Linked DNA regions of Homo sapiens: all the other regions are reported to be linked to region 3. The links are microRNA targets in miRTarBase. Many come from high-throughput screens and were not tested one by one. Region 3 holds a microRNA gene; each other region holds the end of a gene's coding sequence.

Evidence for each region. Region 3 holds the annotated microRNA hsa-miR-4537 (UGAGCCGAGCUGAGCUUAGCUG, at 2,950-2,971, opposite strand). A microRNA usually pairs through its seed, bases 2 to 8, with sites in the 3' UTR of a target mRNA and lowers its output. Matches are read on the target gene's strand: a 7mer-m8 pairs with bases 2 to 8, a 7mer-A1 pairs with bases 2 to 7 and ends in A, and an 8mer does both.
Region 1: miRTarBase lists CHST1 as a target of hsa-miR-4537. Seed matches in the 3' UTR shown: 8mer at 2,523-2,530.
Region 2: miRTarBase lists ETV7 as a target of hsa-miR-4537. The part of its 3' UTR that is shown has no 7-base or 8-base seed match.
Region 4: the mRNA of UQCC3 is a reported target of hsa-miR-4537. Seed matches in the 3' UTR shown: 8mer at 685-692.
Region 5: the mRNA of MARVELD2 is a reported target of hsa-miR-4537. Seed matches in the 3' UTR shown: 8mer at 3,627-3,634 and 8mer at 2,481-2,488.
Region 6: the mRNA of TMEM154 is a reported target of hsa-miR-4537. Seed matches in the 3' UTR shown: 8mer at 3,299-3,306.
Region 7: the mRNA of POP5 is a reported target of hsa-miR-4537. Seed matches in the 3' UTR shown: 8mer at 849-856.

Annotation. Positions count from the first base shown.
Region 1 is chr11:45,646,112-45,650,186 of GRCh38, forward strand. It overlaps CHST1 (carbohydrate sulfotransferase 1), which reads right to left. Exons shown (of 4, transcript NM_003654.6): 4 at 1,578-4,075. The coding sequence ends at 3,577. Among named protein-coding and RNA genes, the nearest start is that of CHST1, 17 kb to the right of the region's middle.
Region 2 is chr6:36,362,864-36,366,863 of GRCh38, forward strand. It overlaps ETV7 (ETS variant transcription factor 7), which reads right to left. Exons shown (of 8, transcript NM_016135.4): 8 at 3,331-3,899. The coding sequence ends at 3,782. Among named protein-coding and RNA genes, the nearest start is that of ETV7-AS1, 22 kb to the right of the region's middle. RefSeq lists an enhancer at 2,502-2,551.
Region 3 is chr14:105,856,583-105,860,657 of GRCh38, forward strand. MIR4537 (microRNA 4537) reads right to left here and starts at 2,971; the gene lies at 2,902-2,971. MIR4539 (microRNA 4539) reads right to left here and starts at 990; the gene lies at 931-990. MIR4507 (microRNA 4507) reads right to left here and starts at 1,593; the gene lies at 1,542-1,593. MIR4538 (microRNA 4538) reads right to left here and starts at 1,660; the gene lies at 1,583-1,660. It also overlaps IGH.
Region 4 is chr11:62,671,888-62,675,953 of GRCh38, forward strand. It overlaps UQCC3 (ubiquinol-cytochrome c reductase complex assembly factor 3), which reads left to right. Exons shown (of 2, transcript NM_001085372.3): 2 at 66-1,799. The coding sequence ends at 227. It overlaps LBHD1 (LBH domain containing 1), which reads right to left and starts at 380. Exons shown (of 7, transcript NM_024099.5): 1 at 1-380. RefSeq lists enhancers at 1-693, 60-219 and a silencer at 460-589.
Region 5 is chr5:69,441,309-69,445,383 of GRCh38, reverse strand. It overlaps MARVELD2 (MARVEL domain containing 2), which reads right to left. Exons shown (of 7, transcript NM_001038603.3): 7 at 1,054-3,852. The coding sequence ends at 3,730. Among named protein-coding and RNA genes, the nearest start is that of MARVELD2, 28 kb to the right of the region's middle. RefSeq lists a silencer at 3,577-3,774.
Region 6 is chr4:152,624,858-152,628,932 of GRCh38, reverse strand. TMEM154 (transmembrane protein 154) reads left to right here. Exons shown (of 7, transcript NM_152680.3): 7 at 372-4,075. The coding sequence ends at 387. Among named protein-coding and RNA genes, the nearest start is that of TMEM154, 53 kb to the left of the region's middle.
Region 7 is chr12:120,575,649-120,579,717 of GRCh38, reverse strand. It overlaps POP5 (POP5 ribonuclease P/MRP subunit), which reads left to right. Exons shown (of 5, transcript NM_015918.4): 4 at 121-204; 5 at 306-954. The coding sequence ends at 400. RNF10 (ring finger protein 10) reads right to left here. Exons shown (of 17, transcript NM_014868.5): 15 at 4,030-4,069; 16 at 3,768-3,926; 17 at 2,130-3,128. The coding sequence ends at 3,052. Among named protein-coding and RNA genes, the nearest start is that of POP5, 3.7 kb to the left of the region's middle.

The DNA of each region.
Region 1 (4,075 bases), not on the chromosome of region 3:
CATACTTGAATGAATGAATGAATGAATGAATGAATGAATGAATGAATCCATCACTAGACAGGGCTTTCCTCTGAAAGCTCCAGCCAGCTTTATTAAAGTCTTCTGTTACGGCAGTTGAGGGGAGAGTTTCTCTCCAGCAAGGCCAAGATCTCCAGTGTCTCCCACTTCCAACCTGAAGCCACCTACCCAGAGGAAAGAAGTCTCTGGCTCAGGGACAATCCACCACAGAGCAGTCAGAGGTGAAGACAATTGTCCCAGCATCACTTACTATAAGAGGGGAAGGGTCAGCCAGCTGTGGCCATTGGAGCAGGCTTTCCCTGGGTATTGGAACAGCCAGCCAGGGGCACTGAGTGAGGCCTATCTGGGCACTGATGCCATGAAGCCAACTGATGAGTCAACTTCCTCATCGCACCCTGGAGAAGCAGCTCCTGTGGATCACAGGCTGAGAAGAGACCCAGGACCTGGCCACCAGTCCTGACAGAGGCTTTTCCAAGTCAGCTGCCTGGTCTTAAAGAATGACAGTGTAAATTAGCCTGCCTGTCTTGTGCAGAAGAGAAACTGAATCTCAGGGAGATCAGCTTTGGACTCATCAGCCACCTTAACAGTTATGGCCACCCAGATAAAAGACTACATTTCCCAGCCTCCATTGCAGCTAAGAATGGCCATGTGGCCAGGCTGTAGCCAATTAGACATGAGTGAAAGTGATGTCTATAATTTTAAGGTTGTGCTCATACATGGCAGAGGTGTAGCATCCTTTCCTGTTTTTCTCCTTCCTGCTGCCTAGCAAGCCATCTAGGACCACATAGCCATGGGGAACACCTTAGAAAGATGGAGCAACAACATAGAAAGAGGCAGGACCCTGAAATCTGGGCACATGACCTGGGAGCCACCATACCAGACCTGAACAGCTTATGCCTTTTAAATGAGAGTGAAGGAAAATAAACTATCTGACCACCTCACACCCATTAGGATGGCTAACTTTCAAAAAGAGAAAGAAAATAACAAGAATTGGTGAGGTTGTGGAAAAATTGAAACCCTTGGGCCGTGTTGGTGGGAATGTACAATGGTTCACCTACTGTGGAAAATAGTATGGCAGTTCCTCAAATGATTAAAAATAAAACTGCCACATGATCCAGCAATTCAATTTCTGGGGATATGCCCAAAAATGGAAAGAAGGGTCTCAAGAGACAGTTGTACACCCATGTTCACAGCAGCATTACTGACAGTAGCTAAGACATGGAAGCAACCCAAGTGTTCATCTAGGGATGAACGGATAAGCAAAATATGGTATGTCCATACAGTAGAATATTACTCAGCCTTAAGAAGAAAGGAGATTTTGACATATGCTGCAACATGGATGAACCTTGAGGACATCACGCTAAGTGAGATGAGCCAGTCATAAAAGGACAAATACTGTATGGTTCCACTTACATGAGGTACTAGAGTAGTCAAATTCCTAGAGACAGAAAGCAGAATGGTGGTTTCCAGGCACTGGAAGTGGGTGGGTAGGTGGGGAGTTTTTGTTTAATGGGTACAGAGTTTCAGTTTTACAAAATGAGCAAAATTACAGAGCTGGATGGTGGCACACGTTGTGAATGTATTTAATGAATGGTACACCTTAAAAAGGTTAAGATGGTAAATTTTACATTCTGTTATTTTACCCCAGTAAAATTTTTTACAAAAGAAAATCACCTATCTTGATTAAGCCACTATTAGTTAAGGCATTTGCTAGAGCTGTTGAACTGTCTACATCCTCCTGACACATATAAAATAGCCCAGGACTGTGTTTCCTCAGGAAGCCCTTCTTCCAGTTGGCTAGGACCCCTGGGGCTGCCTAATCACCAGACACTCCTTTGTCCCAGGACAACAAAGCTGTGACCTGCAGCCACCCCAGGGGCAGGTTTTCTTGGAATAAGAGCTGGGGAAGCTGCCTGGAGCAACCTGCTAGATTGCCACGAAGGGAAGGGGAGGAAGCACAGCAGATTCTCTGCCAGTGTAGACACCAGTAAACCTGTACCAGTTATTCAAATAGTCAAATACTTCCAGGTCTGTGGGTCAGCAGCCACTGCCCTGAGGCACCCCACCCCTTGAAGTTTCCCCCTCCCTGGCTATCCTAGACCCAGACCCACCAACTAAATGGGTAACATTTAGCACAAGAAGGGATTCCAGGATGTCATTCTTACCTCCAGCTACTCTGATTCAGCAAGCCATACCACTTGTTAAAGACTTTGAACATTATCCCTGGCTATAAGTTACCCGGTCTCAACTGACTGAAGGAAAAAAAAAACGGCTGGGTGAGGTGGCTCAAGTCTGCAATCCCAGCACTTTGGGAGGCTGAGGCAGGAGGAATGCCCAGAGCTCAGGAGTTCGCGACCAGCCTGGACAACACGGTGAAACCCCGTCTCTACTAAAATCCAAAAAAAAAAAAAAATAGCCAGGTGTGGCAGTGTGCACCTGTAGTCCCAGTCACTCGGGAGGCTGAGGCGGGAGAACTGCTTGAACCTGGGAGGCAGAGGTTGCAGTGAGCCGAGATGGCGCCATTGCACTCCAGCCTGGGTGACAGAGCGAGACTCTGTCTCAAAACAAAACAAAACAAAAACCTAAACTAAACTCAGTGTTGAGGGTGACAAGAGTTCTGAAAGGCAGACTTGTCATTTAATTCCCACCTCCACCTCTCTCTCGCTGTCCTCCCCAAAGCTAGGAACACCCAGACCCGGCTGAGGCCCTCTCGTACCCATTCAGAATGTCCTGCAATCACACACAGAGATTATTGCACTCTTTTATTTACAGAAAACACAGATAAAGCATTTCAATTTCAATGTTCATTTAGCAAACTGATCCACTCTTTTTTTTTCTTTTTGGCACAAAGAAATATCACAGATGGACCCCGAGATCAATCAGAAGCTCATAAGATTCATCAGTCATCACTGGTCCAGGGGCGGCCACGAGACTCAGACAGACAGACAGCATCACCACAGACTGGAAACAGAAACAGGTCCACGTTCACCTCACAGTAAAAACCTGCCTCACCGACAGGCAAGGGCGGGCAGGAGGGGGCAGTTTCGCTGCTCTAAGGGGGGAAATGGGCGTCAGGGGCAGGAGGCAGGGATGGGGAAAGGATGGACACCATTCATAAATTAGAGACAAGTGGTCCTCTTGTTTGTATCCTCTTACCTTGAATAGTAAGACAGTGCAAAAACTAGATACCCGACCACTCACCCATTCAAAAGCTTGAGAAGTCGCCTCGCGAGTGCCCGTGTGCGTGTGTGGATGTGTAAATGTGGTGCTTGTAAACATTGTCACCGTCCGCACAGAGACCCAACATCCATGTGTCTGAATGGGGGGGGGGGGGGCGGGACCCTACTTCAGGCGCCCTCTGCCCCAGTGATTCCCGTCCAAGACGTAGTGCAAATTTCAGAGACAAAAAAGGGGCAGAAGGGAGTGGGGTGAGCTGGGGGCAGGAAGGACACGAAGATGAGGTGGGAGAGGGAGGGGTTAATAAGGCAACAGTTAAAAACGGTCCATTTTATCAAAACCGACACCTTGCGCCTCCCGCCCCCACCCGCACCGCCCGGGTCACGAGAAGGGGCGGAAGTCCCGCTCCTCCACCAGGCTGACCGAGGGGTTCTTCAGCTCCTCCTCCGAGGCGGCGATCTTGTAGCCCAGCTGGGCCAGCACCTGCTGGCAGGCGTTCTGGGCAAAGGCCACGATGTCGTAGGAGAGGCGGAAGCGCCACTTCTCGGCCGTGGCCGCCGAGTTTCGCACGGTGCCGTATTTGTGCTTGCCCAGGGTGGGGTCGCCCCGCGTGTTGTTCTGGATCCAGCGGGCCACGTGGCTGTCCAGCGGGATGCCCAGGAACCCGTAGATCTCCTCGGTCTTCTTCATAGGGTTCCGAGCCAGGTCCTCGTAGCGCACCAACATGTACTTGCCCTTGAGCCACGGGGGCCGCATGAGGCCGGTGGACACGGAGTTGGAGAAGTCCTCGCACACCGTGGTCAGCTGCGTCACGTCCAGGTTGTAGGGTTTCCTCCCGGTGCCGTACCAGAGCCGCCAGAGCCGGTACGTGTCGCGGAAG
Region 2 (4,000 bases), not on the chromosome of region 3:
CATCAACCCACCAGCAGGCAAACACCACTTATAACTGGAAGAAGTGATCTAGGAATCCATCCTCCTGCTTCATCTTGGACCCAACCACAATGCTGAGAAGAGGAAATGAGGTGGCTTCAGGAGCGAAGAAGCTGGGCTGGGCCATGTGATCTTGCGCAAGTCACTTCGCTCTGGCGGCAGTTCCCTTCTCTGTAAAATGAGGGCCTGGATAAATTCATTTCGACAGTCCCTCCTAAGCCAGGTATGCAGCTCTGGGGTGAGGAGGTGATAATGTGTCCAGAACTGGTGGGTTCTTGGTCTCACTGACTTCAAGAATGAAGCCGCGGACCCTCGCGGTGAGTCTTACAGCTCTTCAGGTGGCGCATCTGGAGTTTGTTCTTTCTGATGTTCCGACGTGTTCAGAGTTTCTTCCTTCTGGTGGGTTCGTGGTCTCGCTGGCTCAGGAGTGAAGCTGCAGACCTTCGCGGTGAGTGTTACAGCCCTTAAGGCACCGCGTCTGGAGTCGTTCGTTCCTCCCCGTGGGCTCATGGGCTCGCTGGCTCCAGGAGTGAAGCTGCAGACCTTCACGGTGAGTGTTACAGCTCTTAAAGCAGCACATCTGGAGTCATTCATTCCTCCCGGTGGGGTCGTGGGCTCGCTGGCTTCAGGAGTGAAGCTGCAGATCTTCGCACTAAGCGTTACAGCTAATAAAAGCAGCGTGGACCCAAAGAGCAAAAGAACAAAGCTCCCACGGTGTCAAAGGGGACCAGAACGGGTTGCCACTGCTAGCTGGGGCAGCCTGCTTTTATTCTCTTATCTGGCCCCACCCACATCCTGCTGATTGGTAGAGCCCAGTGGTCTGTTTTGACAGGGTGCTGATTGGTGCGTTTACAATCCCTGAGCTAGACACAAAGGTTCTCCACCTCCCCACCAGATTAGCTAGATACAGTGTGGACACAAAGGTTCTCCAAGGCCCCACCAGAGTAGCTAGATACAGAGTGTCGATTGGTGCATTCACAAACCCTGAGCTAGACACAGGGTGCTGATTGGTGTATTTACAAACCTTGAGGTAGATACAGAGTGCCGATTGGTGTATTTACAATCCCTGAGCTAGACATAAAGGTTCTCCAAGGCCCCACCAGAGCAGCTAGATACAGAGTGTGGATTGGTGCATTCACAAACCCTGAGCTAGACACAGGGTGCTGATTGGTGTATTTACAAACCTTGAGCTAGATACAGAGTGCCGATTGGTGTATTTACAATCCCTGAACTAGACATAAAGGTTTTCCACCTCCCCACCAGACTCAGGAGCCCAGCTGGCTTCACCCAGTGGATCCTGCACTGGGGCTGCAGGTGGAGCTGCCTGCCAGTCCGGCGCCGTGAGCCCGCACTCCTCAGCCCTTGGGTGGTGGATGGGACTGGGCGCTGTGGAGCAGGGGGTGGCGCTCGTCGGGGAGGCTCAGGCCGCACAGGAGCCCATGGAGCGGGTGGGAGGCTCAGGCATGGCAGGCTGCAGGTCCCCAGCCCTGCCCCGCAGGAAGGCAGCTAAGGCCCGGTGAGAAATCGAGCGCAGCGCCGGTGGGCTGGCACTGCTGGGGGACCCAGTACACCCTCCGCAGCCGCTGGCCCGGGTGCTAAGTCCCTCATTGCCCGGGGCTGGCAGGGCCGGCCGGCTGCTCCGAGTGCGGGACCCGCCAAGCCCACGCTCACCCGAAAGTTCAGCTGGCCCGCAAGCGCCGCGCACAGCCCCAGTTCCCGCTCGTGCCTCTCCCTCCACACCTCCCTTCAAGCTGAGGGAGCCGGCTCTGGCCTTGGCCAGCCCAGAAAGGGGCTCCCACAGTGCAGCGGTGGGATGAAGGGCTCCTCAAGTGCCGCCAAAGTGGGAGCCCAGGCAGAGGAGGTGCCGAGAGCGAGCGAGGGCTGTGAGGACTGCCAGCACGCTGTCATCTCTCAATAAGAGAGGCCATGGGGCATGGGCTCATCGCAGAGCAAAGTCAAGGAGCTGGAACAGTCTCAGAGGGAAAGTGAAAGGGGCAAAGCATTTTCCCATCGATCCTTTTTCCAAAGCCACCTGCCTGCCCCCCTGCCGGTGAGTACCATCGAGGGTCCCAGATAGGACTAAGCCTGGAGTTTCCCTGCTCATGGGCTATCACAGCTTTGAGCCCCAAAGTCCAAGAGTCCTTATCAAGGACTTCTCTGCAGTGACTCAAGGCCAGTGCAGGCGCCAGCAGAGACGGGGATTTCCTGACCGGCTGGGGGCAAGAGGCTGAGGTAGTTTCCTCCTTCTGAGAAAGAAGATATGAATCCGAGGAGTTCTATTCTTGGTTAAATGAAAATACTCCCTTCTCCTTCTACCTGAGCTTTACCTGACGGCTTGCAAGGGCAGAGGCTCTGGCCCTCAGGAGGCCCCAATCAGTACTTGGGGCTAGGGCACAGAGGGAGAAGCTGACCCATTGGACCGAGGTGTTTTCATGCTTCAGAGCAGCTTCTGGTCTGCAAAGTCTTCTCAGCTAACACAGGTGAAGCACGCCCCACAGAGCAGGCAAACATTAAGCATTTCACAAGTATTGCCTTATGGAAGCTTTCCGACAACCCCAGAGGTCAGGTCAGGAGAAGGAGCCCCATTTTGCAGACGAGAAACCTGAGGCCCCAGAGAGGCGGAACACCTTGCCCAAAGTCCCACAGCAGATACAGGGACAGGAGCATAGGAAGCCACAAGTGTGGGGACGGGGGCCAGTCTTCACTGGGTCGTAGTCACTGAAAACTGAGGATGAGGGGGCTGGGCCAAGTGAAATGGACTATTCAGTGAAGATGCCAAGAGCAGAGAGGTGGGGCCGGGGCCTGGCTAAGAAGCATCCACATACAGTCAGAGGTGCTGAAAGAAAACAGGTCGAAGCCCTGGGTTGTGGAGAGGCGGGCCAGCTCCACAAGCCTCTCCCTCAGTGTCCTCATCTTCACGCCTGAATGCCGAGTGAATTAAATGAGATAAGATATCCACAAGGCCCTTAGCACAAGGCCTGGCACATAGCAAACACTTAAGAAACATCGGCTGGACGCAGTGGCTCACGCCTGTAATCCAAGCACTTTGGGAAACTGAGGCAAGAGGATCACCTGAGGTCGCAAGTTCGATACCAGCCTGGCCAACATGGTGAAACCCTGTGTCTCTACCAAAAATACAAAAATTAGCCGGGTGTGGTGGTGGGCAGCTGTAATCCCAGCTACTCCGGAGGCTGAGGCACGAGAATCTCTTGAACCCAGGAGGCGGAAGTTGCAGTGAGCCGAGATCGTGCCACTGCACTCCACCCTGGGTGACAGCGCAAGACTGTCTCAAAAAAATAAAAGAAAGAAACATCAGCTACCATTGTTTTTATTGTTACTGAGGCTGTCAGTGCCGCCTGGAAGCACTAACACTTTTTCCCATTTCCTGCCTCAGCCCATTTCACAGGTGAGGAAATCTGAGGCTCAGTGAGGGACTTCATTCCCTTCATCTGGTAAATTCCATTTACAGGGGTGGGGCTGGGTGCTCTATCGGTGCCTGGCTTCCTCTCCCAGGGGTGCAGTAGGGGAGAGTCCATTCCCCTGTACCTCATTTAGCCCCAGGATTGCCCTGCCCAAAAGATGACACTCCTGCCCCCAGTGTCCTGGATGGGAGGCCTCCCAGCCTTCCCAAGCAATGGCTGTAATCCTGTGGGTACAGAGTCTGGCTGGGGATCCTGCTGCTCTGCTGGGAGGAGGAGTCTGCCTTCATGGGAGACTCGGTCCCTGCCCCATCGGTACCGGGTGCCTGGAGTCCACCTGCCCCTCACGGAGAGATTTCTGGCCTCTTGTCCTTGAACTCTATTCTGTCCTGCTCCTGGCTCTCCAGCGGCTCCAGGTGGCTGTGCTTGTCCTGGACCATCTTTCCCGGAGTCTTTAGAAATCTAGAATTCAGGCCCCAACTGCAAATCAGCTCCTGCCCCAGCTGCAGGGGGATTCCAGCCCACCCAACCCCAGTTCTGCTTCCCCTTTCACCACATCCCCT
Region 3 (4,075 bases):
GGCTCCCTGCTCAGAATGGCTGAGGGCTCAGGTTTGGGTGGACCAGGCCTGCTTTCCCCCGAGGCATCAGCACGTAGGTGCTGCACACACTCAGCTCCCAGCACATGCAGCTGGAGGGCCCAGGTTGCATACCTGAATGTGAAGCCTGGAGCCACACACCCCGCAGGCAGCCAATAGAGTCCCTCCAGCCCAGCTTCTGCTGCCCCCAGCTCAGTCACACTCCAGCTACCCTGAAGTCTCCCCAGGCAGACAACCCAGGCCTGGGAGTGAGTATAGGGAGGGTGAGTGTGATGGGGAACGCAGTGTAGACTCAGCTGAGGCTATCCATCTATGTCCAACAAGATCATGAAGATTGGCCCAGTGCCATGTCCTCCAGTTCATCCCAGCCCAGGCCAGCTCAATCCAGTTCATCCCAGCCCAGGCCAGCTCAATCCAGCCCAGCCCACCCCACCCCAGCTCAGCAAAGCCAAGCTCAGCTCAGCCCAACTCAGATGAGCTCAGACCAGCTCAGCCCAGCCTAGCTGAGCTCAGACCACCTAAGACCATCTCAGCTCAGCCCAGCCCAGCTAAGCCCAGTATAGCCCAGCCCAGCTAAGCCCAGTATAGCCCAGCCCAGCTAAGCCCAGTATAGCCCAGCCCAGCTAAGCCCAGTTTAGCCCAGCCCAGCTAAGCCCAGTATAGCCCAGCCCAGCTAAGCATAGTTCAGCACAGCCCAGCTCAGCTCAGCACAGTTCAACCCAGCTCAGCCCAGCTCAGTGCAGCACAGCCCAGCTTAGCCCAGCCCAGCCCAGCTCAATCCAGCCTGGCTCAGCCCAGCCCAGCCCAGTTTGGCTCAACCCAGCTTGGCTCAGCCCAGGTCAGCCTGGCTCAACTCAGCCCAGCCCAGCCCAGCTCTGCTCAACCCAGCTCTGCTCAACTCAGCCCGGCTCAGCCCAGCTCAGCCCAGTTCAGCTCAGCCCTGCTCAGCACAGCACAGCAGAGCTCAGCTCAGCCCAGCTCAGCTCAGTTCAGCTCAGCCCTGTTCAGCACAGCACAGCAGAGCCCAGCCCAGCCCAGCCCAGCTCATCCCAGCTCAGCCCAGCCCAGCCTAGCTTAGCTCAACCCAGCTCAGCACAGTTCAGCTCAGCCCTGCTCAGCACAGCACAGCAGAGCCCAGCTCAGCCCAGCTCAGCTCAGTTCAGCTCAGCCCTGTTCAGCACAGCACAGCAGAGCCCAGCCCAGCCCAGCTCAACCTAGCCTGGCTCAGCCCAGCCCAGCCCAGCCCGGATCGGCTCAACCCAGCTTAGCTCAGCCCAGGTCAGCCCAGCTTAACTCAGCCCAGGTCAGCCCAGCTTAACTCAGCCCAGCCCAGCCCAGCTCAGCCCCCAGCTCTGCTCAACCCAGCCCAGCTCAGCTCAGCTCCGCTCAGCCCAGTTCAGCCCAGCTCAGCCCAGCCCAGCCTAGCTTGGCTCAACACAGCTCAGCTCAGCCAGCCCAGACCAGCTCAGCTCAGCCCAGTCCAGCTCAGCTCAGCCCAACCCAGTCCGGCTCAGCCCAGCCCAACCCAGCCCAGCCCAACCCAGCTCGGCTTAACCCAGCTCGGCTCAGCCCAGATCAGTCTGGCTCAACTCAGCCCAGCCCAGCTCAACCCAGCCCAGTTCAGCCCAGCTCATCCAAGCTCAGCTCAGCCCAGCCCAGTTCAGCCCAGCCCAGTTCAGCTCAGCTCAGCCCAGCCCAGTTCAGCCCAGCCCAGTTCAGCTCAGCTCAGCTGAGCCCAGCCCAGCCCAGTCCGGCTCAGCTCAGCCCCGCCCCACTCAGCCCAGCTCAGCTCAGCCCAGCTCAGCCCAGCTCAGCTTAGCCCAGCTCAGTTCAGCCAGGCACAATCTGGCTCAGCCCAGCCCAGCCCAGCTCAGCCCAGCCCAGCCTAGCTCAGCACAGCCCAGTTCAGCTCAGCTCAGCTTAACTCAGCTCAGCTCAGCTCAGCCCAGCCCAGCCCAGGTCAGCTCAGCCCAGCCCAGCCCAGCCCAGATCATCCCAGCTCAGCTCAGCTCAGCTCGGCTTAGCCCAGCTCAACCTGGCCCAGCCTGGTCCAGGTCAGCCCAGCCTGGACCACCCAGCCCAGCTCAGCTCAGCCCAGCTCATCCTGGTTCAGCTCAGCTCAACCCGGCTCAGCCCAGGTCTGCTCAACCCAGCCCAAATCAGCTCAGCCCAGCCCAGGTCATCCCAGCTCAGCCCAGCACAGCCTACTTCAGCTCAGCTCAGCTCAGCCTAGGTCAGCTCAGTTGAGGTCAGCTCAACTCAGCCCAATCCAGCCTGGCTCAGCCCAGCTCACCCTAGCTCAGCTTAGCTCAGCCCAACTCAACCCAGCCCAGCCTTGCCCAACCCAGCTCAGCTCAGCCCAGCCCAGGTTAGCCCAGCCCAGCCTCGGCTTAGCTCTGCTCAGCTCGGCCCTGCTCGCCTCAGCCCGTTCAGCCCAGTTCAGCTCAGCTCAGCTCAGCCCAGCTCAGCCCAGCCCTGGTTAGCTCAGCCCAGCTAAGCTCAGCTCGGCTCGGCTCTGCTGAGCTTGGCCCAGCTTGGCTTAGCCTGATACAACCTGCTCAGCCCAGTTCAGCTCGGCTCAGCCCAGCCCAGCCCAGCGTAGCTCAGCTCAGCTGAGCCCAGCCCAGGTTAGCTCAGCCCCAGTCCAGGTCAGCTCAACTCAGCCCAAACCAGCCTGGCTCGGCCCAGCTCACCCTAGTTCAGCTTAGCTCAGCCCAGCCCAGCCCTGCCCAACCCAGCTCAGCTCAGCCCAGCCCAGGTTAGCCCAGCCCAGCCTCGGCTTAGCTCTGCTCAGCTCGGCCCAGCCCAGGTTAGCCCAGCCCAGCCTCGGCTTAGCTCTGCTCAGCTCGGCCCTGCTCGCCTCAGCCCGTTCAGCCCAGTTCAGCTCAGCTCAGCTCAGCCCAGCTCAGCCCAGCCCTGGTTAGCTCAGCCCAGCTAAGCTCAGCTCGGCTCAGCTCTGCTGAGCTCGGCCCAGCTTGGCTCAGCCCGACACAGCCTGCTCAGCCCAGTTCAGCTCGGCTCAGCCCAGCCCAGCCCAGCGTAGCTCAGCTCAGCTGAGCCCAGCCCAGGTTAGCTCAGCCCCAGCCCAGGTTAGCTCAGCCCAGCTCAGCTCTGCCCAGGTTAGCTCAGCCCCAGTCCAGGTTAGCTCAGCCCAGCTCAGCCCTGCCCAGGTTAGCTCAGCCCAGCTAAGCTCAACTTGGCTCAGCTCAGCCTAGCTTGGCTCAGCCCAGCACAGCACGCTCAACCCGGTTCAGCTTGGCTCAGCCCAGCCCAGCCCAGCCTAGCTCAGCTCAGCCCCGCTCAGCCCAGCCTAGCTCAGCTCAGCCCCGCTCAGCCCCGCTCAGCCCAGCCCAGCCCAGCCTAGCTCAGCCCAGCTCAGCCCAGCCTAGCCCAGCTCAGCCCAGCCCAGCTCAGCGCAGCCCAGCCCAGCTCAGCGCAGCCCAGCTCAGCTCAGCTCAGCCTAGCCTTGCTCAGCCCAGCTCAGCTCAGCCCAGCTCAGCCTAGCCTTGCTCAGCCCAGCTCAGCCCAGCTCAGCCCAGCTCAGCCCAGCCCAGCCTAGCTCAGCTCAGCCCCGCTCAGACCCGCTCAGCCCAGCCCAGCCCAGCCCAGCTCAGCCCAGCCCAGCTCAGCTCAGCCCAGCCCTGCCCAGCTCAGCCCAGCTCAGCCCAGCTTAGTGCAGCCAAGCCCAGCTCAGCTCAGCTCACCTGGTGCAACTTAGCCCAGCTCAGCTCAGCTCAGCTCAACCCAGTTCAACTCAGCCCAGTTCAGCTCAGCTCAGCCCAGTTCAGCCTTGTTTAGTCTAGGTCAGCTTAGGTCAGTTTTGCCCATCTGAGTCCATTTCTGAAAGCTGGATGGAGTTGTCATGGCCAGAAATGGTCAGCCCACCAGACCTGCTTGTCTCAGCTAAAGCCATCTCATTGCCGGGTTCCTGCACAGCCAGGCTGGCTTCCATCTTTTGTCTCCCTCTACTTGATACCCCAGTTCCCTGCAGTCCTGCCCCAGCGCCACCTGGGTTTTGGTTCCAAAGCATTACCAATCATTACCACCCTCCACTACC
Region 4 (4,066 bases), not on the chromosome of region 3:
AGGAAGGGTGGGCGGGTGGAGAGCCCCGGACTGGAGCTCCTGCGAACTCCCCTTCCTGCCCTCAGGAGATGCCACTGCAGGACCCAAGGAGCAGGGAGGAGGCGGCCAGGACCCAGCAGCTATTGCTGGCCACTCTGCAGGAGGCAGCGACCACGCAGGAGAACGTGGCCTGGAGGAAGAACTGGATGGTTGGCGGCGAAGGCGGCGCCGGCGGGAGGTCACCGTGAGACCGGACTTGCCTCCGTGGGCGCCGGACCTTGGCTTGGGCGCAGGAATCCGAGGCAGCCTTTCTCCTTCGTGGGCCCAGCGGAGAGTCCGGACCGAGATACCATGCCAGGACTCTCCGGGGTCCTGTGAGCTGCCGTCGGGTGAGCACGTTTCCCCCAAACCCTGGACTGACTGCTTTAAGGTCCGCAAGGCGGGCCAGGGCCGAGACGCGAGTCGGATGTGGTGAACTGAAAGAACCAATAAAATCATGTTCCTCCACCCAGAATGAGCCCTGCAGTCGACACCTACCAATGCTTAGAGACGCGTGGTCGGTGCTGGGGGCGCGGCCTGGAGCTGCTGCCTGTCCCACCCCACCAGAAGAGGCTGATCCCGATAGGTATCTGACCACATTTTTTTTTTTTTTTTTTTTTTGAGACGGAGTCAATGTCACCCAGGCTGGAGTGCAGTGGCACGATCTCGGCTCACTGCAACCTCCGCCCCTGGGTTCCAGCAATTCTCCTGCCTCAGCTTCCCGAGTAGCCGGGATCACAAGTGCGCGCCACCAAGCCCAGCTAACTTTTGTGTTTTTAGTTGAGACAGGGTTCACCATGTTGGCTAGACTGGTCTCGAACTCCAGACCCAGGTGATCCGCCCGCCTCGGCCTCCCAAAGGGCTGGGATTACAGGCGTGAACCACCTCGCCCTGCCGCGGCCACATTTTTTCTTTTTTTTGAGATGGAGTCTTGCTCTTGTCACCCAGGCAGGAGTGCAGTGGCGCAATCTTGGCTCACTGCAACCTCTGCCTCCTGGGTTCAAGCTGTTCTCCTTACTCAGCCTCCCATGTAGCTGGGATTACAGGCGTCCGCAACCACGCCCGGCTGATATTAGTAGTTTTAGTAGAGGCGGGTTTCACCATGTGGCCAGGCTGATCTCGAACTCCTGACCTCAGGCAGTTCACCCGTCTCAGCCTCCCAAAGTGCTGGGATTAGAGGCGTGAGCCACTGCGCCCGGCCAACCACATTTTCAAAACAGGTCATGTGGTGTCAGGTTGGAGTGTACTTCCAGGGATAACCGTGGGACATTCTTGAAATCTGAACTATCCTGGGAAGTCTTGAAGTAATGGATGCCTATAGTGGACACTCAGGACTCCTGTCCTTGGAGCGAGATTGGAGGGGCATCTAGCACTTAACATATGCCACAATGCTTTCTGTGGCCATTATTTAACCTCTGGTTAAACAAGCTTAGGAGGCTGACTTACTAGTAGTAAAAGGAGTGTGCTTTGAGTCACAGATCCTGGTTGAACTCCAGCATGTTACAAACCTCAGCCCTGTTCTATGAAAGGTCATAACTACGAGGATTATTGTAAAACATTAATTTAGAAATGTAAAGTGGTCCCCAATCTCTGGATCTGGTCAGGATTTATTGGAGCTGCCACTGAGGGGATTAAATAAGTGGGGTCAAAGCCCCACAGCCTAGTCAACCAAGTTGCTCCTCTTTTGTCTATCCTGTGGTTCCCAAGCAAGACTGCAATTGAAAAAAAGGCTGCTGTTATTAAAGTCAGAACACCAAATAAAGCTTTTTTTTTTTTTTTGAGACAGAATTTCTGTGTTGTTGCCCACGCTGGAGTGCAATGGAGCGATCTCAACTCAATGCAACCTCCGCCTCCTGGGTTCAAGCGATTCTCCTGCCTCAGCCTCTCCAGTAGCTGGGACTACAGGGGTGCGCCACTATGCCAGGATAATCTTTGTATTTTTAGTAGATACAGGGTTTCACCATGTTGGCCAGGCTGGTCTTGAACTCCTGACCTCAGGTGATCTGCCCGCCTCAACCTCCCAAAGTGCTGGGATTACAAGCATGACCCGCCGTGCCTGGCCCAAATAAAGCTTTCTAACACTGGGGTGTAAACCCAGATATAAGTATTGGTGCTCTTTTCAGCTGCTGGAACACATGTTACATGTGATCTTTACAGAGTAACTGTGGCCTTTCTCCTAGTCCAGGAAGGAGTGGAGTCAGGAGCAGTTTGACAGGACAGCAGGGTGGGGTGATCAGCAGCCAGAGGGACTATCATAGATAAGCTCATCAGTGCTTCTTGGTTGGTTTTAAAAAGCAGAGAGAAGCGCCAACATGGTGAGACCCTGTATCTACTAAAAATACAAAAATTAGCTGGGCATGGCGGCACGTGCCTGTGGTCCCAGCTACTCGGGAGGCTGAGGCAGGAGAATCGCTTGAACTCAGGAGGCAGAGGTTACGGTGAGCCGAGATCGTGCCACTGCACTCCAGCCTGGGTAACAGAGTGAGGAGATGTCTCAAAAAAAAAAAACAAAAAAACAAAACCCTTTTAGCCCAGCATTTTGGGAGGCTGAGACAGGTGGATCTTGAGGTCAGGAGTTCAAGACCAGCCTGGCCAACATGGTGAAACCCCATCTCTACTAAAAAATACAAAGAATTAGCTGGGTGTGGTGGCACACACCTGCAATCCCAGCTACTCGAGAGGCTGAGGCAGAATTGCTTGAACCCGGCAGACGTTGGTTATAATGAGCCGAGATTGCACCACTGTACTACAGCCTGGGATCTAGAGCAAGACTCCACCTCAAATAAGTAAATAAAATTATCCTTTTAGTAGCTAATGCTTACTGGGGACTTATTAGGTACCAGGCACTATGCTAAAGCATCTTATACCAGCATTATGTAACCCTCATGACAATCCCAAGAAATAGGCACTATTCCTATTCTATTAAGAAGCTAGGTTTTCTGGGTGAGATGTGAAATAACTTAAATGACATCACTAAGGTAGCAAAGCTGAAGGAAAAGTATAAGAAGGATGTTCCTGACTATAAGTAGAAAGGTTGGTTTGATGATGCAAAGGGTCCTGCTAAAGTTGCCTGGAAAAAGGTGGAAGAGGAAGATGAAGAGGAGGAGGATGAATAAAGAAACTGTTTATCTGGCCAGGCACAGTGGCTCAAGACTGTAATCCCAGCACTTTGGGAGGCAGAGGCGGGCGGATCATCTGAGGTCAGGAGTTCAAGACCAACCTGACCAACAAGGTGAAACCCTGTCTCTTAAAAAAAAAAAAAAAAAAAAATTAGCTGGGCGTGGTGGTGCATGCCTGTAACCCCACCTACTCAGGAGGCTAAGGCAGGAGAATCGCTTGAACCCGGGAGGTGGAGGTTGCAGTGAGCTGAGATCGCTCCATTGCACTCCAGCCTGGGCAACAAAAGCAAAACTCCATCTCAAAGGAAAAAAAAAAAGAAACTGTTTATCTGCCTCCTTGTGAGTACCTTAAGAGTAGGGGAGCCCCGTAATGGACACATCTCTTATTTGAGAAGTGCCTGTTGTCCTCATTAGGTTTAATTACAAAATTTGATCATGATATTGTATAGTCTCTCAAAGTACTCTAAAAATTGTCAGTGGTGGCCGGGCGTGGTGGCTCACGCCTGTAATCCTAGCACTTTGGGAGGCCGAGGCGGGTGGATCACTTGAGGTCAGGAGTTTGAAACCAGCTTGGCCATCATGGTGAAACGCTGACTCTACTAAAAATACAAAAAATTAGCTGGGCATGGTGGTGCGCGCCTGTAATCCCAGATACTTGGGAGGCTGAGGCAGAAGAATCCCGTGAACTCAGGAGGCGGAGGTTGCAGTGAGCCAATACTGTGCCACTGCACTCCAGCTTGGGTGACAGAGCAAGACTCCATTTCAAAAAAAAAAAAAAAAAAGAAATTCTCAGTGGTTTACATGAAGTGGCCATGGGTGTCTGGAGCACCCCAAAGCTGTATCAAAGTTGTGCATATTTCCAAACATTTTTAAAATGAAAAGGCACTCTCATGTTCTCAATAAATAAATAAATAAATAAATAAATAAAG
Region 5 (4,075 bases), not on the chromosome of region 3:
AAGTCTCTACCTGTTTCACTGATTTCAGTATCTTTAATGCTAACATATCTGGGACAATAAAAGCATTTGACATATAACTGGCATATACTTTTTTCAAGTTTTAGATATACTGACATATCCTCATATTAATTTTCAAATTAGAATACATGTTGAAATAATATGGAAGGGCTGGGTGCAGTGGTTCACACCTGTAATCCCAGCACTTTGGAAGGCTGAGGCAGGGGAATTGCTTTGGGAGGCCGAGGCGGGCAGATCACTTGAGGTCAGGAGTTCGAGAACAGCCTGGCCAACATAAGATGAAACCCTGTCTCTACTAAAAATATAGAATTTAGCTGGGTGTGGTGGTGAGTGCCTGTAATCCCAGCTACTTGGGAGGCTGAGGCAGGAGACTAGCTTGAACCCAGGAGGCAGAGGTTGCAGTGAGCCAATCACACTACTGCACTCCAGCCTGGGCGACAGAGTGAGTCTCCATCACAAAAAATAAAAGAAAAAATAATATGGAAGAAAGAAAATGTACAGGGAAGTACTTTTCCTTCTGAATCTTGTAACTTGCCAAATGTAGCTATTACAGGCTAAACTGTGGCCTCTCAAAAAGATAACACTGAAGTTCCTAACCTCCAGTACCTCAGAACGTGACTTTACTTGGAAATAGCGTCCTAGCAAATGTAATGAGTTCACAGGAGGTCATGCTGGAGAAGGTGGGCCTCTCATCCAATATGACTGGTATGGCCAGACAGGGAGAAGGCCATGCGAGAATGGAGGATTGGAGAGATGCATCTACAAGCCAAGGAACATCAAACATGGCCAGCAAACCACCAGAAACTAGAAGAGGACTCCCCTACAGGTTTTTGAGGGAGCATGTCCCAGCTGACACCCTGCTTCCAGACTTCTAGGCTGCAGGTCTGTGAGACAACACACTTCAGTTGTTTTGAGCCACTCAGTTTGTAGTACATTGTCATGGCAGTCCTAGGAAACTAATATAGTGGCCTGGACTTTGAATTATTGCGAATAATGGGGGAAGGAGAAACAGTGAGTCACCTGAGCATCGTGACCTACGGGTTTTCAATGACTTTCCAGTTTATTTTCTGACAAGTGAAAATATTTTCAAGAACATGCACAGTGAACACAGGAATGCTAGGAAGGCAAACATAAAAGGGCACACACACACACGGCAGGTGACTGAAACTTTAATGCACCTAGGGATTGACCACAACATTTACAAATCAGTGTTACTGCATTGGTTTTTCAAAGATTAGCTACATTTATAAACTTTATTTTAAAAGTTTCACAAAGTTAAATTTCCTTAACACTTCAACAGGAATCTAACTCTTTACAGTCTATCAAAATGGTAATATTTTACCTTTTTTTTTTTTTAAAGCACTGGTGCTCTTCTTAAGTGAAATGTTAACACAGGGCTCAATACATAAAAGAGAAAGTGAAGTTGTTCCATTTGGGGGGTCCCATAAGGGGCCTCATGTTTCCCTAGGTGTTACCCCTTCAGACACAGCACAGCCTACAAAGCCATGGAATTAAAATATTAACAATGAATGCATAAAGATTTCACTGACAAATAAAAACCAGGGAGTGCATTCAGTGACCACAACTTTCTAAGCTTCTGCTTTTCCACATGCTTTTCTTTGGTTTTATCACTTTAGAAAACTCTTTGAACATTAATTGTCTGAATGGCAGCTATATTAGTCAGAAGCTGTAATGCTACACCTGGGAATTTATCTACATGATAGATGCTGCTGAATAAAATCCAACAAGAACGATTTTGTTTAAAAAAAAACTTTGTTAAGGCAGTCTATTGTTCATACTAACAGAAATAAAACATTTATGAATAAAGTCCAAAGCCAAGATAATTCTTAGAAAGATGAAGCATCCCTGCTGGGCACAGTGGCTCACACCTGAATCCCAGCACTTCAGAAGGCCGAGGCTGGTAGATCATCTGAGGTCAGGAGCTTGAGACCAACCTGGCCAACATAGTGAAATCCTGTCTCTACTAAAAATACAAAAAATTAGCTGGGCATGGTGGTGGGTGCCTGTAATCCCAGCTACTTGGGAGGCAGAGGCAGGAGAATCGCTTGAACCCAGGAGGCAGAGGCTGCAGTGAGCCAAGATCATACCACTGTACTCCAGCCTGGGCAACAAGAGCGAAACTCCATCTCAAAAAAAAAAAAAAAGGGAGTTTCCAAGGAAATGCTACATTGTGGGACTGTAGCATGTATGTCCAAAGGGAATAGAAAAGCAATACCAGCTGGGCGCGGTGACTCACGCCTGTAATCCCAACACTTTGGGAGGCTGAGGCGGGTGGATCATGAGGTCAGGAGATCGAGATCATCCTGGCTAACACGGTGAAACCCCATCTCTACTAAAAATACAAAAAAATTAGCTGGGCGTGGTGGCAGGTGCCTGTAGTCCCAGCTACTCGGGAGGCTGAGGCAGGAAAATGACGTGAACTTGGGAGGCGGAGCTTGCAGTGAGCCGAGATCGCACCACTGCACTCCAGTCTGGGCAACAGAGTAAGACTCTGTCTCACAAAAAAAAAAAAAAAAAAGCAATACCATTCATACAATTCAATGTGTCCAGGGCAGGCTGGACTATGGGGAGATGGAGAGATGTACAGTCACACTGATGAAAGACAGGGAGGCCATGTGGAACCCCAGGGGCCACAGAGCCACAGTGAAGCACCAGGCTAAGGCCATGAGTTAACACCACAAACCAGAAAGGCACCAGACACTTGGGCTTTTGGTTAAGTAGGTTGGGCTTGCTCATTAAGGACCTTTTCTTGAGACTCATTCTTTATAATTTATTCATTTCACAAACACTTCAGTAGACTTCACAAACACTAATATAGTTCCTACCATATTAGTAACTCCTTTAATCCTAACAACTCTATGAGGAAGGAACTATTATTAGCCCCATTTTACAGAAGAGGAAACAGGCACAGAGAGATTAAGCAATTTGCCCAAGATCAGGATGTCTGAAAATGTTGATCTGGGATTCAAACACCTTTCAAGGGAATAAATGACACCTTTGAAAGATGTCACCCTTTTTCCCTTAGAAAAATCCTTTAGAAATCCCCTAGGAATTTCTCTAGGAAGAGAAATTTGTCCCAGAAAAATCCTAGGAACCTGCCTGAGTAAAAAAGGAAAAAGTAGCACCAGAATTGATGGTCCACTTGCCCATCACACTGCCAGGATACGATCTCTAAAATGATGACACATTTAAATGAGATAGATGAATATGAAATTGGTCACAGATGAAAGATGAACACAGGATTTTTTCCATTCTTAGTAAAGGCCCTTAGAACATTTGAATTCGTTTAAAAATGTCTGAGTAAAATCTTTAATGTTGCATACTGGTTAAACCAATTGGAAGCTGATTTGGGAAGCGCTTGCTTCTCTACCACAGAGGCTAGCATTAAAAAGGCAGTAAATAAATAGTAAACTTGCTATTTTTTAAAAAAAGTAGTTTCCCAGCCTGACCAACATGGTGAAACCTCGTCTCTACTAAAAATACAAAAATTAGCGGGGTGTGGCAGCGCACGCCTGTAATCCCAGCTACTGGGGAGGCTAATTGCTTGAACAGGAGAATTGCTTGAACCCGGGAGGTGGAGGTTGCAGTGAGCCGAGATTGTGCCACTGCATTCCAGCCTGGGTAACAGAGCGAGACTTCATCTCAAAAAAATAAAATAAAATAAAAAAATAAAGTGGTTTCAAATAAGCGTTAAGAATAACCTTGTACATCCCAATTCATTACTTTATCATATTCTTGAATTCTTTGCTTTATGTGAGAAAGTTTATTCTTTAGGTAATCACAGCGTTCTTTTTTTTCCAGAAATGTAGGATCCTGTAAAAGAAATATAAGTATTATTTTGGCTCCTGGCTTCCTCAGTGAAAAACACAGAAACATACATTGTCACCCAGGAAATGATCATACATAGCAAAAGTCTCTACAGCAGATTCTGAACTCAGGGTAACAGTTAAGCTCTCTACATATTTTTTAAATGTACTTTTTTTTTTAGAGCAGTTTTAGGTTCACAGCAAAATCAAGCAGAAGTACAAAGTGCTAA
Region 6 (4,075 bases), not on the chromosome of region 3:
TGGCTCACACCTGTAATTCCAGCACTTTGGGAGGTCAAGGTGGGCAGATCACAAGGTCAGGAGATCGAGACCATCCTGGCTAACATGGTGAAACCCCGCCTCTACTAAAAAAAAAAAAAATACAAAAAATTAGCCAGGCTTGGTGGTGGGTGCCTGTAGTCCCAGCTACTCAGGAGGCTGAGGCAGGAGAATGACCTGAACCTGGGAGGTGGAGCTTGCAGTGGGCCGAGATTGTGCCACTGCGCTCCAGCCTGGGCGACGGAGCCAGACTCCGTCTCAAAAAAAAAAAAAAAAGAAAGAAATATATTACTGTTTTGTGTGTGTGTGTGTGTTTTTTTTGTTTTTTTTTTTTTTTTTTTTTTTTTTTACAGTGACAGTGAATCCTAAACCTGAATGGCGCTCATGTTTTCCAAGAGAAGCAGCCCCTGAGGGAGTCTGCTGAGGCTGCCAACAGAGGATGAAGAGGATACAAATTTAATTAATTTCAAATCAACATAGACACAAGAACCTTTTGCTGTTTCTTCCAACGCCCACTCTTCCTAATGATGGCATCACTTGCACTTGGAAGAATGTGCAATTGAGAAGTACTAGGAAAAGGCCTGGCTGCCATCCATCGCTGCCTCTGAGGGTGGAGAAGGAGGCGGGTGATGTGCTCACTTCTGATCAACATGTGTTGCCTCCTCTCAGCCAACTTCTAGCTCACTGAACTCACTCTGGTCATGATAAATGTTCGTCACCTTTCTGCTTCATTCCTTAGGGCCTAAATCAGGAAGCTGTTTTATCGATGGTTTCCTTTTGGGTCAGTAACCAGCTTTGGATAATTTCCTCTGATTATTCAAGTCGTGGGACAGGTAAACTACATTCAGCAGGAACTTTTCTCGAGGAGTGTTATGTCATGGAAAAGACACCAAACACAGCAAGTATTTTAATGAATACACCATCCCAGGGGGTCAGTAAGCTCTGCCTGCCAAGAAGACACAGTGAGAGGGGTCCACAGTCCTGATGAGGTGGCGTTTGGTAACTTGTAGACCCTAGCATGGCCAGGTCTGGTCACCCTTAAGAACTTCTCAGAGAAACTAGGAATCTTCAGTGAAAGAACTAATGTTCTCCTCAGCTGAAATTCCCTTGCTTGTCAGCATTTCTGCAAAGCTCACACTTGTTTCACCATACCTCCCTTGGATGTGACATGTAGGTAGGAAGTATGTGCAGGTGGGAGTCATCTGTCAGCCTTCTATGTTTCAGAGATCCTGAAGGTGGTTTGAAACAAACAGAAGAGGAGCAGGAAATATCCGTGCCTGTGGCAGATCTCACTCATCATGCTTAGCATTCTCTCCCGCCAAGCTGGGATAAGCCTCATGTCCTAACACAGCACAACAGGAGGTCTCTGTCAGTCCATCAGAGATGACATTCTATGTGATATTTTTGACATCCTTGTGCTAAAAGCAATGGCACAAAATGGAAAAGGGCCTATTGACCACACCTACTCCAGTAAAATTGTTCTTCATTTATTCCTTAATTTTCTAAATCTGACCCCTTTAAAGCAATCTAGCAAATTGAGAATCCTCAGCTCTCCTTGGATACCTGATATTTTATTTCAAGAAAGAGACAAAGAAGGAAAATTTTATTTATTTTACTACCCACATATAAACCGAAGGGAGATGGGACTACCCAAACATTTGCTGCTCAATTTTGTGTCTTGTGCTTGAAAGTCTGCCCTAATGCATAACAAAAACTACTTGTCTCCTACCTTTTGGGATCCCTTTAACAAGTATTTGCCTTCTGAACTACGTGGATAATTTCAAAGGCAGAGTTCCAGACCAGAGAGGTCTTTCCATACAATGAAAGCTATAACTAGCTGGTTGTGTTTAACCACTGCTATCACGCTATCCTGGGACTGCATAGAACTTTGACAAAAGACAGACTTCATGGTACACAACTTCAACAGATTTTCTGTCATATTCTCACCAGCACATCTGAATGAGGCTTTGTGTTTTCCTTGCTCTCTTGCATGTTCCTTTTCAACTCATGGCCCACAGTGACTCTCAGATATTTATGCCAAAATTGCATACAATTGTTTTCTGAATCATAACTTGTCTATTTTTCTGCCTATGTGTGCTACTTTCAGTTTGTTTCTCATCAACATTTTGACTCTCAGAAGAGCCTCCATTTGCCCCTTTCTCTCTTTAGGTATCTAAGATCTTTGAACACCTGGGCCTTTACATTTGATCCAACCCTATCAAATAATGAACTTCTCAGAGAGGCATCTGGGGTCCTGGAACTTCATGTTGATGAAGTCATATTATATAATATGATAAAAATATTCTCATGCAGTATTTTAAATAATTTCAAATTCTAGAAGAAGCAAATTTCAGCGACATGTCATTGAGTTTTTATTTGGTAAAGCTATAATTGTGCAGTGTACAAAGCACTTTTTAAAAAGATAGTTTATTCTGTCAGGGTATATGAAGTTAGTATACAGCCAGAACAGCCAAGCCTCAATTCTTGTACCTTGTGTCTTTTTATTACTGTTTAATCAATAGATATCATATGTTTATGACAGTTTCAAGAATTGTTTTTAAACCCAAACTTAATTTTATGTTTCAGACTATTGTTAAAAAAACAAAACAAAAACCAAAAAAACCCTCACTAATTTGCCCTAATTGGATAGGGCAATCAGAACAAAATCTGACTTTCGAATATTTAAAAGATATGTAAGTTTGATTGCATTTTCGTACATTTTAAGCAAACTAGGTTAACAACAACATAGCCTAGTCAAACTTCTCAGGAAACTTGTTTTAATAAATATGTAAAAATACCCATTCATGACTCTTGACCCAATGGTGTGACTCCTCCCTCTGGGAAGGGCTTTGTTACCCAATGCAAGACCACAGCCTGGATCCACCTTGATGTAGGTGGCTCCTGGATAACCCACATCAAACAAATGTGATAAAGATGAGTAAAACTGGTCTTGGGAAAATAATTTCATAGTTTTTTTTTCTCCTAGTTATGCTGTATAATACAGGAGAACCAAAAGCTGTAAAATTATTTTATTTTATTTTTTAAAGACAGGGTCTCACTATGTTGCCCAGGCTGGTTTCAAACTCCTGGGCTCAAGCAGTCCTCCTGTCTCAGCCTCCCAAAGTGCTGGGATTACAGGCATGAGCCACTGAGCCCGACCAGCTGTAAAATTATTATATTCATTTTCACTATGTGCTACTTCTTCTCACCTGACTTTTTTTTTTTTTTTTTGAGATGGAGTCTCACTCTGTCACCCAGGTTAGAGTGCAGTGTCACGATCTCGGCTCACTGCAACCTCCGCCTCCCAGGTTCAAGCAATTCTCTTGCCTCAGCCTCCCAAGCAACTGAGATTACAGGCCTGTGTCACTATGCCCAGCTAATTTTTGTATTTTTAGTAGAGATGGGGTTTTCACCATGTTGGTCAGGCTGGTCTCAAACTCCTGACCTCAAGTGATCCACCAGCCTCGGCCTCCCAAAGTGCTGGATTACAATTGTGAGCCACTGTGTCTGGCCACACACTGACTTTCACTGTAATATCTGGATGTTTTATGTAACATATCTGGGCAATAGGGCTTATGGCAGAATTGGCCCTCGTGGTGTAGGCCTTCCAAGTTCCAAGTCTCATTTTTAGTATTCCTCCGTTCCAACCCCTGGATCCACCAGTTCCAACAGCCTGGATCCACCTTGATATTGACAGCCAGGCAGATGCTTCTGCTGATCACCGCAGCTCTAGCAATGGAAATGGATATGTTAAGAAAATACTTGTCTATTCTTTTATTTTGGTGGTTTAAACTATTAATTCACACCATCTCTGAAAAAAGGCCTTATGTTGACTAAAGAAAACATAGGCTTTAGTTTCAGCTTCTGTCAGAATTAGTACCAATTCTGAATCTGGTGGAGTGATAAGACATGGTTTCATGCTGGGAAGACACTGCTGAAATCCTCCTTGTGGGAGAACATGGAAATTTTATACTGAATTAAATTAACGCATGTGACTTTTCACATTCAGAGACATTCAGGATGAATTCTGGGGTTTCCATTTAATAGCTATAACAGG
Region 7 (4,069 bases), not on the chromosome of region 3:
GTCTAAACTGGTGGGTGGGTCTTGCTGCTGTCCCGCTAACAAGACACTTCCCCCTACCTCTGAAAGTCTGTAAGGTCGAGATCTTTCACAAGCTGTTGACCACAGTAACTCATATGCCAGGTACAATAAGAACATGTCAGAAGTTCCTAATTCAGTACAACAGGAGACAGCTGTTGATCTTGTTGCAGAACTGCACTGATGAAGGTAAGCAACACTAGCCCAGTGCCCACTGAGCAGTGACTGACCTTAAGCTGAAGAAATCACTCCCAAAGATATCTTTCATCCCTGTTATCTGCCTTCTCCAGGAGAGCGGGAAGCTATCCAGAAGTCTGTGACAAGAAGCTGCTTATTAGAGGAGGAGGAGGAGTCAGGTGAGGAGGCTGCAGAAGCAATGGAGTGAACCTCTGCTCCCCACACAGCTGGCTACACTGCTCAGGCTTCAGGCCCACTTGTTGAACAGAACAATCTGGGTAGCAACAGCATCTTCCACAGTTTTCCAAACTGGATAGCTGCCAACCAGCAGACATTACCCACTTGAAATGGAGTACTCAGTTAAACTGAAGTTGCCTTTACCTAGCATTCCCTGGTGAAGTGTTGCAGGTTGTGAACTCTGTAGACATCTTTATTGCTTGGCTAAGAGTAGATTTAATAAATGTATCTGGTTTCCGTGGCATTTAGCATACTTATATTACAGAAAGGGCTTATGGAGTCCATGCTTGGCCAAGTCTCTGTTCTCTCTCTATCCCTAGCCTTGGTGGGAAGACTGACTCCCTATGTGGTACTAGTTAAACTTTTTTTTTTGAGACAGTCTCAGTCTATCACCCAGGCTGGAGTGTAGTGGCCCAGTATCGGCTCACTGCAACCTCCGCCTCCTGGGTTCAAGCAATTCTCCCACCTCAGCCTTCCAAGTAACTGGGATTACAGACGTGCACCACCACGTCTGGCTAATTTTTGTATTTTTAGTAGAGACGGGGTTTTGCCATGTTGGCCAGGCTGCTGTTGAACTCCTGGCCTCAAGTGATCGGCCTACCTTGGCCTCCAAAAGTGCTGGGATTAAAGGGTGAGCCACTGTGCCTGGCCTAAATTTTCAATACTTAGCCTTCTACCTGAAGCTTTGTACCCCCGGCCCCATGATGGGCCCTAAGCAAGCCAAGTCATTTGGAATAGAAATATTAGTTGAGACACAGCAACTGAACTGGCAGAGATCTACAGCCCATCTCAGTACTGAACCACAGGGTCTTACAGATACCAGATTCCTTGCCAATAGTTAATCAGGTAACTTAAAAAATACAACTTTGGGCCGGGCGCAGTGGCTCACACCTGTAATCCCAGCACTTTGGGAGGCTGAGGCGGCCAGATCACAAGGTCAGGAGATCAAGACCATCCCGTCTAACGCAGTGAAACCCTGTCTCCACTAAAAATACAAAAAATTAGCTGGGCATGGTGGTGGGTGCCTGTAATCTCAGGTACTCAGGAGGCTGAGGCAGGAGAATGGCGTGAACCCGGGAGGCAGAGCTTGCAGTGAGCTGAGATCCCACTACTGTACTGCAGCCTGGGCTAGAGCGAGACTCTGTCTCAAACAAAAAATGCAACCTTTGCAGTTGGGGGGGGCGCGGGTGCTGGCCTCATCTGACATCATTACTGCATGGTCATGTAGCAGCTGTCCACTTAAGGAACTTAAGGTAGTTTTTGTAGTTCCGCTCTTATTGCGCCTGAATACAAGGCGCCCTGAAGACAAGTCAGACTGCCATACTCACAGGAAGTAGGAATGGCGGGAGACTTGTGATCCAGGTTTGATCTGCTACCTACTGACATTTCTGGGATCTGTTTTCTCCATAATACAATGGATGAGACTGAAAGTACCATACACATTTAACAGAAACACTGGTGATTCTGGCTTCAACATGCCCCCTCATCTGGAGGCCAGAACACCCTCATCCATCCAGGAAATTTCCTGATAGGATTTCTTTTAAAATGGCAGGTTAAAGCTAAGCCCAGCTCTAGAACCATTTAAACCTGACACCAGAAAAGACAGCCTACAATATCATAGTAGCTGTCACGTTAACCTATTCAAGAAATAACTTGTCTAGCTTACCTGTAATGAACTTAAAAAAACAAAAAGCTCACAATGCTTGTGCAGGTGATTTATTGCAACTATTTGCCTTCGCATTCTAATGCACCTAGAGGTCACTTTATTAAGCAGCAAAAGAATTCACATCAAATTCAGCTCAAACCAAGGCATAAGAAAACTGCTCTAGATGAGAGGGAGATGGTGGCAATGCTACCGCTTCAGATGGCCCTGCTCTCCTGCAGCTGTACCAGACTCCTCCTCCTATGACTCAAGCCAGTCACTGAAAACAAGCTCGATCTTAGGGGTAGCAGGTCTCAGGGCTTCGTGAGTTACAGCTTTCCTTACCAACTCAAGCCATGCTCAAGAAGAGGCAAAACCCTCCTTTCACACATGCAAGTGCCAAGGACAGCCTACTCCATTAAGCTGGCACCACAGCCTGGCCATGTGTCAGAAAAAAAAAAACTGCAATTCAAACTGGGTGTCCTAAATCCATTTTATTCCCACCCCTGTTTCTTTAACAAGGAGAACTAAATAGGTAGTAAAGATTCAGCTGTTTTTTAAAAGACAAACTGAGAGGTGTACTGAGTCCAGGAAGCCCTGACATGATGCTACAGCAGAGCAGTGTGTGCCATTCTGGGTTGGACTGCTCTAATGCATCTCAAAGGGGACTCAATCTTACTTTGGGTTGAGAAAAATTAATTACACATGGGTCAAAAAGACTAAACTGGCAATGAACTAAAAACCTTGGCAGGAAGAGATCTCTTGTGTCAATACTTTATTTTGGTGTAAAGACAGGAAGCTGGAAAATACACTGTATTTAAAATTTTCTTGGTTCCCCCTCACATTGTGGAAACCCCCTCCCCCCAGAGCTAATCTGTTCAAACTCAAATACTTAAAAATTACAGCAGCCAAACAAAAGCATGGGGGAAAAAAAAACAAAAACAAAAACCAGATGGAGAAGGTAGCCTGGGCCAGTAGTGTCACTTGGTGTGGACGACTGAGGTGCTGAACAGGAGCTTCTGTTTCTGTTTTTTTCTTTTCTTTCCTCCTTTCTCTTCTAAAGGGAGACACAGAAAGACAGCTTAACTTAAAATGCCATCCCTTGTCCCCTGGCCAGTTTTCATTACTGAGAGTCACAGAGTGGGAGCTAAGAGTGGAGGCTCTGGAATTAGACTGCCTAGATGCCAATACCAGTCTTGGTATACACCAAGTGGGTGTCTTTGGGCAAATCACTTTTACCTCCCTGGACCTCAGTTTCCCCATCTGTAACGTGAGGTACACCCATTTAACGTGGTTGTTGGGAGAATTAGCACAGTGCTAGGCACATAGCACGCCATACATATGTGATTCTTGTCTAGTCATGAACAGAGTGCAACAGGCTTCGAGACTGACTTCTCCATCTAATTAGCCACCCTGTACCAACTCAAGATTCTAAAGGATACAGGTTGTACACCCCACTGTATCTTGGAAGAGTTCCTCAGAATTTCACTTTCAGGCGTCATCAATTTCTCTGGGGTGGCAAATAGGTCCTATCTGACATACCAAATGGAGTATTATTTAAATGACACTAGAGTGTGCTGAAGGGTTCAGAAGGGAAAGAGCCTAATTAGTGATGTCTGCCACTGAATCCAGGCGGGAATGGCAGTACATGTGTAGTATGTTTGACAACCCTGGGCACTCCAGCCTCTGCCCTTACCAGAGAGGGGATCTGAAGTAGCTGGTGTGTCCAGTTTCATGAAGGCTGCTTCAATAGCTTGGCTGAAGGAATTTTGAAAACTGGGCACAGGAACACGGTCTGAATTATCACTCTCCCCGTCGCTGTCCACAGGGGCAGGAGGAACTAAGCTGTTCTCATCTAAAAAATACCAGTGTTAAAACTATAGAAACAACTCTTTTTCTAGAAACAGCCTTTTATGGAAAGAAGCCAAACTCCCCCTTCACCAGTGGACCATCCTCACCTTTCTTTGGAGCAGTTTTGGGCCACACATCTGCTTTTGC